2 linked regions of the Homo sapiens genome follow. The protein of the gene in region 1 purifies or fractionates together with the protein of each later gene. This does not show direct contact. Each region holds a gene or a part of one and is shown on either strand. Other genes may lie near its edges.

Region 1 (3,329 bases):
GAGTGCAGTGGTACAATCCCGGCTCACAGCCAAAGTATTTTTTGTTGTTTTTTTTTTGTTTTTTGGGGACGGAGTCTCACTCTGTAGCCCAGGCTGGAGTGCAGTGACATGATCCCGGCTCACTGCAACCTCCACCTCCTGAGTTCAAGCGATTCTCCTGCCTCAGCCTCCCGAGTAGCTGGGATTACAGGCATGCACCACCGCACCCAGCTAATTCTGTATATTTAGTAGAGACGGCGTTTCACCATGTTAGCCAGGCTGATCTCGAACTCCCGACCTCAGGTGATCTGCCCGCTTCAGTCTCCCAAAGTTCTGGGATTACAGGTGTGAGCCGCTGCACCCGGCCCCAAAGTATTCTTTTTTTTAATGCCTTGATGTGAGGTGTCTCTTAGTAATAACCCTATGACCTGAGTGTAAATAAAACTCCATGTTTAATGTTCCTTGCACATTGGCAAAAAGTAATAGTATAAACAAACTAAAAGGTGAAAGCAGTTAGCATAAAACAAGGTTAGATCACTAATAATAAAGACAGATTTGGCTGCTTTCTAAATGTGCCTTGCAAAACAGACCTTAAAATACAAGCAATTCACTGTGACCAGCAGACCAGAGGCTGGAGGCCCATTTCGTCCAAAGAACAGATTCATTCATTCCACATACTCTTACTGAATGATCACCGTGTGCCAGGTATGGTGCTGGTGTTGGGGATAGGCACAAGAATCGCTTGAATCCAGGAGGTGGAGGTTGCGGTGAGCCAAGTTCACACCATTGCGCTCCAGCCTGGGCACAGAGCAAGACTCTGTCTTAAAAAAAAAATAAATTAATAAAAATAAATAATAATAATGAATAATTTTTAAGGGAATGAGTCAGGGAAGTAATCATATGTGTGGAACACACCAGGCAGGGTTTAGGAAAGAGGATGGAAATCTCTTTGTGAGCAAGATGGTATTATATCACAGAGATCACTGAAATGAGAAATTTGACAGGTAACATGGTTTACTGGGACTTGGTGTCATCAGAATACGATGGGGAAAAAAACGAAAGCAAATTATTAAATACAGAAAGGAACCAAATGGAAGTAGGCGGGAGTTGAGAATGTAGGATGTTAAAAAAATGACTTTTTTACTTAGAGATGCATCATGACTAGCAGAGACCTTTAAAGAAGAGAGCTCTTCAGGCAGGTAATACCCAGATGGCCAAGATTCAGGATGTACAGGAACAAACGAAAATCCAAACTTAATGGTTTTCTTGGAGGAAAGATGATTCTAGTTCCTTGCAGTTACTAGGAACTCAGGGGAGAGTTGCCATGAAGTAAATTACACAGAACTAAAATCTGTGTTAGATAACAACAGGGAGATGTCAGTTTGGGACTCTCCTCCAGGGAGCGGAAGGAGTTTAAACTTACTAGAATGAAGGCAATTTTGAAGAGTGAAGGGCACAGATGAGAAAATGGAGAACGGGACCTTTGGAGAACCTAAGAATAAGGAAAAAGAGAAGCGAAGGAAGCCAAGGCACAGCGAAAGTCCAGTTTACCCTGAGGAAGCCACATCCATCACAGGGGAGGTGTTAGGAGGGGAGGTCAGCATTAGCCAAGGGGCACAAAGGGGTGGGAGTCCGAAAACAGTGAGGACTTCAAAGTTTCCTCTTTGGAAAGAGGCCTGGAAGGTGGAATTTCGTAACAAGAGAGGTGGAACAACATGAAGAAGGGAAATACTTGAAACCCGAGGAAGAAGAAAATTATGCAGGCAAACAAACAATATGTAGATAAAATAATCAGATCTCTGAGGAGATAAAGAGTTTTTGTTTTGTTTTGTTTTTTTTTAACTCTAAATTCCTACAAAGAAAAACTGGTCTCACACTGGGAGACAGATGAGTAGAGGAACTGTTTACATATCCTCAAACCCCCTTCACAGCTGTGCTGCCTTCTCTGACTGTCTAGAATGTGACTTCCATAGCCTTCTGTCTTGTGGGTTCTCTCACCTGAACAGGCTCCACTGTGGATTCCATCTTCAATTGTCCACAGTTGTTCTCCTTGTTCCAACTTGAAGAGTGCATCCGGTTTGCTGGCTTGATACCCTGTTCATGGAAAATGATAGAGGACTTAGACATATCAAATTGGGCTGGCAATGTCAAGAAGGAAGAATGTTACATTTCAAGAAACTTGAGTTTCTTAAAATACCCAAAATTTAGTTTCTTATCTGAAACTATGAAAGTTTCGTTTCATATCTGTAACATCAAGGTTTTTCTCTTACAAGAGGGTAGATTACACCGTCTTGTGTGGGAGCAAGAGAAGGATCTGAGAATCTACCACTTCAGAGTACTGCAGGCATTCCAAAGAGGTAGGCATCTGAGAAAGGAAGGCCACTGACTAGGCACCCTCTGAGTGACACAGGGCAGCTGTCCTCACCCACTGCCACCAGGTTGCTGTAGTTCTCCAACATCACATCCCGGTACAGGTCCTTCTGAGCAGCGCCCAGGAGTTGCCACTCCTCCCAAGTGAAGTCCACAGCCACATCCTCCAGTGTTATGGATTCCTGTAATAACAGTCCTGTTTAATAAAGTGATGTCTTTTTGATGATGTGGAAGAAATGCTAAAGTTTTTCTGCTCATTTCCACTCTACAGGCTGTGTGCATATACCAAATAGTTTTTTTTTTAATACAATGTGGAAGAAGTAAAGTCCTAATATAATATTCTGTAACTGTATATTCAGTCATCCTCCATTCACCCAATTGGAAGTTTCTATAAAGTGTAGAAGTTAAATCTTGCTAACCTAAAAACAATATATTTATACATTTTATATATGTAAATATATATGAATATATGTACATATATTTATTTTAGATACATGCAAATGAAAGACATATATACAGCCATCCTTTAGTATCTGTAGGGTATTGGTTCCAGGACCTCCTGAGGATACTGAGGTGTCTGATATAAAATGGCACAGTATTGGTCAGGCACAGTAGATCACACCTGTAATCCCAGCACTTTCGGAGGCCAAGGCAGGAGGGTCACTCGAGCCCAGGAGTTCAAGACCAGCCTGGGCAACATGAGACCCCATCTGTACAAAAAATTAAAAAATTAGCTAGGCACAGTGGTGAGTGCCTGTGGTCCCAGCTACTTGGGAGGCTGAGGCAGGAGGCTCATTTGAGCCTAGGAGTTAGAGACTACACTGAGTTATGACCATGCTACTGCACTGCAGCCTAAGCAACAGAGCAAGACTGTCTCTAATAAAATAAAATAAAATGGAATAGTACTTGCAGATTTGCATGTAACCCATGCACATCCTCCCATATACATTTCTGTTTTTTTGAAATGGAGACTCACTCTC
Region 2 (3,829 bases), on another chromosome or scaffold:
TAATGTTGTTACACTGAAAAAATTCACCACATACAAAGACAAATGCTTGCCCCTAGCACATTCACAGCTTCAACTGCTACAGACTGTCACTGAAAAAAATGCATTGGTCAGTCTGAACCATGTCAAGTAAACTATGGAAGTAGCAAATCCACAACACAAACTGTGCTAGCACTTTCTTTTCAAGTCTAACTCCAAAATAGGTACAACTTGGAAGCCACTACCCCAATCTGTGAAAAGTGGTGGAACTTGGCTACTGGACATTTTGAAGATGTGGTTGTACAGTACATTCTCATGGCCCATACCAGGTTCCCGCAGAGAGCTGCACAGTCAGCCCTGCAGCATTCGCAACAGTGCATGGACAAGATTCCGATGCAGCTCAGTACCGATGTGTCTGATGTGAGTACTGTGGAGGCTGCTGGGAGGTAGCTGAGTATCCCATGCTGCTCTGCGGCTGTGATGTGCTTGGTCCAGGGTTGGGATAGGCAGCATGTGGATTGGAACGCTGGAAAGGAGATGAGGGAAAAGTGTGATTCAGGTGCTTCTAGGGGAAGCTCAATCCCAATATGTGACTGAAGTGTCATTATGTTTCAAGGAAGAAAGGATGTATAGGTTTTGTGCTATGTACTAACTTTATAATTAAAGACAAAAACCCCAAATATTTTAACATCCTCTTCTCTTGAGGAAGGTCAGAAATATTGCTAGTAAATAATATTAAGCCTAGGCTTATTACTATGCTGTGCAAATACATTTTTTTCTACAGGAGTAACCCCTTTTTATGCTGTTTTGTATCTACTTGGTAAATTTGCTTGAGATGTTTACCCAGAAACTTAATGATGTATACATAAAAAATTCAAAGCTTATTTACATGCTTTCTTCAGTAGAAAACTCACCCCCACACACATGACTGAAGAGTAAAAGTGAGTATGATAGGAGAAGGTATCACAGAATCCATTTCTTTGGCATTAATACATTTTTATGCCCTTTAAACTATTTTTTTTTTCTTTTGAGACAGGGTGTCACTCTATCATCCAGGCTGGAGTGTAATGGTATAATCATTGCTAGGATTATAGGCATGCACCTCCATGCTCAGCTAATTTTTAAAAATTTTTTTTGAAGGAACAGAGTCTTGCTATGTTGCCCAGGTTGATTTCAAACTCCAGGCCTCAAGTGATCCTTCCCCTCAGCCTTCTAAACCACTGGGATTACGGGCATGAGCCACAGTGCCTGGCCCCTTTAAGCTACTGAATCTTATTTTCTGCTACAAGTTTATATACAAAAGTAAAAATATAACCACAGTAAGAAGGACGGTATTCTCAATTCTAAAATGGCACAAAGAGAAAGAATGTGATGGTTTGGGGTTCTCTAATTTTGATATGTTAGATTATTATTCCCATTCTCACACCTCTCTCTCATACTATTTGCTCCCAAGACAAACACTATAAAAGATTAACCAGAACTTATTACTTCTGTCTTTCAAAGCATATTTAATAAGACATATAATTCCAAATTCTGCCAATCCTAGAAAAGGTAACATTTTTAAAAAGAGTGGACACATGAAATGATAGTCACAAATACTATTTTAAAATTCATCCACAAAAAACCAACAACAATCACACCAACAAAGCAGCATGGCATCATTTTCTCGGTTCCAGAAGCGAAGGTCAGAGCACTGCTCTGCTTCCTTCTAAGGATGCCATCACCTTAGTGTGCAAACACATTTGTGGGCCAAGAGAGATGCACTCTTCCCATCCGGAAAGGAAGAAAAAGATACTGGAACCAACAACTCCCACAGCTGTCTGCCCTTGGTGTCCTTGTTTAGCTAACTGGAAGAGAATTACTACTCACACAACAGTGATTTCCATGGTGTGATGGGCTGGACTTCTCCCCTAACCAAAAGAAAGAGTTAATACCTAATTCTGAAAGTACAGTAACGAGCACTCGGGACCTTATCAGTTTAATAACATCTCTTTCTCTCTCTCTTTTTTTTTGTGTGTAAATAATTCTAATTGGTCAGATTTTCAGTATCCTTCCCACACTGAACCCTTGTGTAGTTGGGAATATGGTTAGAATAAGCAGAAGAGAAAAGGAGGTGGTATACAATTTTCAAAGAGGGTCTTTCCACAACGTAACTGACAATGCCATGATAGGATCCCTAAGCAGGCAACATAACAGCCTTTGTGGTCAGATCAAATATGAGTCCTGCATCTACAGCTTGCTGGGGATCCATGTGAAAGTTATTTAACCTCTACAAGCCTCAGTTTCCTGAAATGGCTGCAACACTTAACCTCCCAGAGTTATCTCATTTAATCCTTACTACAGCTTCACATTGATCATTATCCAGTCTACAAATGGAAACTGAGAACATCTGAATCACTTACTCAAGGATACAGAGAAGTAAGTGGCCAGACTGGGATCTGAAAGCCTATGTTCTTAATCACTGTGAAACATTGTTCCAAAACAATAGCTATCAAGCTCCTACCATAAGCTAGGTGTCAAGCCACTTCATGTCTAATCTGACAACAGCTGCAAGTTAGGTTTTACTAGTTTCATTTTACAGATGAAAAAACGCCAGGAGATATTATCCTACTTGTCCAAGGTCACACAGTTAATAAATGGCATAATTTGTATTTGATCATTCCAAGTCTGGTTCAAAAGTCTAAACCCTTGCTACCATACCACTGTCAGTACTTTTCCATGCCAGTAACATTTCATGTTAATGTATTTCCCTGGGTATACAGACGTCAGTATTTCTCAATTAAATCACATTTTCCCACGATCATAAACCCATATGTAAACACTGACATGCAGTCAATACAAAATAAACTTGGAATACCTGATAGTCTGAGGTCATGATAAGTCCACCTGAGGTAGTGGTAGGAGGAACAACTCTCACTTTCTTCAACGGGGGTCCCTGTGTGTGACTGCTGTCTTGATTCCCTGGGTGGCCAGTTCCATTAGTGTGGTTATTGCCCTGCTGCTGCTGCTGGTTCTTCTCAATTGGTTAAACAGAAAAAGTTCAGCTCAGAGGGAGAACAAAATATACCCACAATGGAAAATGTTATGGAGGCATTCACGAAACAAGAAGCTGCTAACAGTACTTTAATACTTACTTTGTCTCCTTTGTCATCAGGTTCTTCTTCCGTTAAAAATTCTCGTTTTGGGTAAGGGATTTGACAACCGGCAAAAACGCTGATCATAAGAAAAAGAAAAACCATTTCTGGTATACTAATCAATATTCCAAATGCTTCATTTAGGAGATTCTCATTTTAATCTTTTAAGATGAACTTTGTCTCCATATTTGCAAATATAAGCACCTTTCATGTAACTGTGACAAAACGAATCTTTTCTTTGTAACTAGTAATATTACAGCAGGCTACTTGAGGGCTTGAGCTGTATACAAATGATCAATAATCATCGAGTATGATTCAGCTTTCTTCTTTTATCCCAGCATTACTCTTCTATTAATACAGACCAAATATAGATTCTAGCTGAAGTATGTGTCACCATTCAAAGGTAATTTTTGTTTTACCCTTCCTACTACATTTATTAACAAAACAAAAGATGGTATAGGGAACACATTTGGGAATATTTGCAATTTTGGAACATGAAACTGTAACTGCAGACAGTAAGGAGCTACAGCACGCATAACCAACCTGTCACTGAATAGCTGGATCACTACTGAAACTAATGTGATCAGCATTTCATAAAGCAAGAGATGAACAGGAATGCCTCTTAACTGGAAAGCCCCTAAATGACACTTTAATCAGCAAAGCTCATTTTTGCTTGTCATAAAGGATTTCCTTGGGTTCCCATATAAGAGGAGGAGCAA

What was found.
Region 2: the proteins of ZNF350 (region 1) and CDK8 purify together in Homo sapiens (affinity purification with mass spectrometry; one large-scale study listed by BioGRID and IntAct). This does not show direct contact.

Annotation. Positions count from the first base shown.
Region 1 is NC_000019.10:51,966,601-51,969,929, forward strand, and holds part of ZNF350 (zinc finger protein 350), read right to left. Parts: intron 2,532-3,329; coding exon 2,405-2,531; intron 2,074-2,404; coding exon 1,978-2,073; intron 801-1,977; coding exon of another isoform or gene 675-800; exon of another isoform or gene 658-674; intron 640-657; exon of another isoform or gene 570-639; intron 1-569. UniProt on the Homo sapiens protein: Transcriptional repressor. Binds to a specific sequence, 5'-GGGxxxCAGxxxTTT-3', within GADD45 intron 3.
Region 2 is NC_000013.11:26,400,629-26,404,457, reverse strand, and holds part of CDK8 (cyclin-dependent kinase 8), read right to left. Parts: intron 3,190-3,829; coding exon 3,111-3,189; intron 2,993-3,110; coding exon 2,834-2,992; intron 503-2,833; coding exon 377-502; 3' UTR 1-376.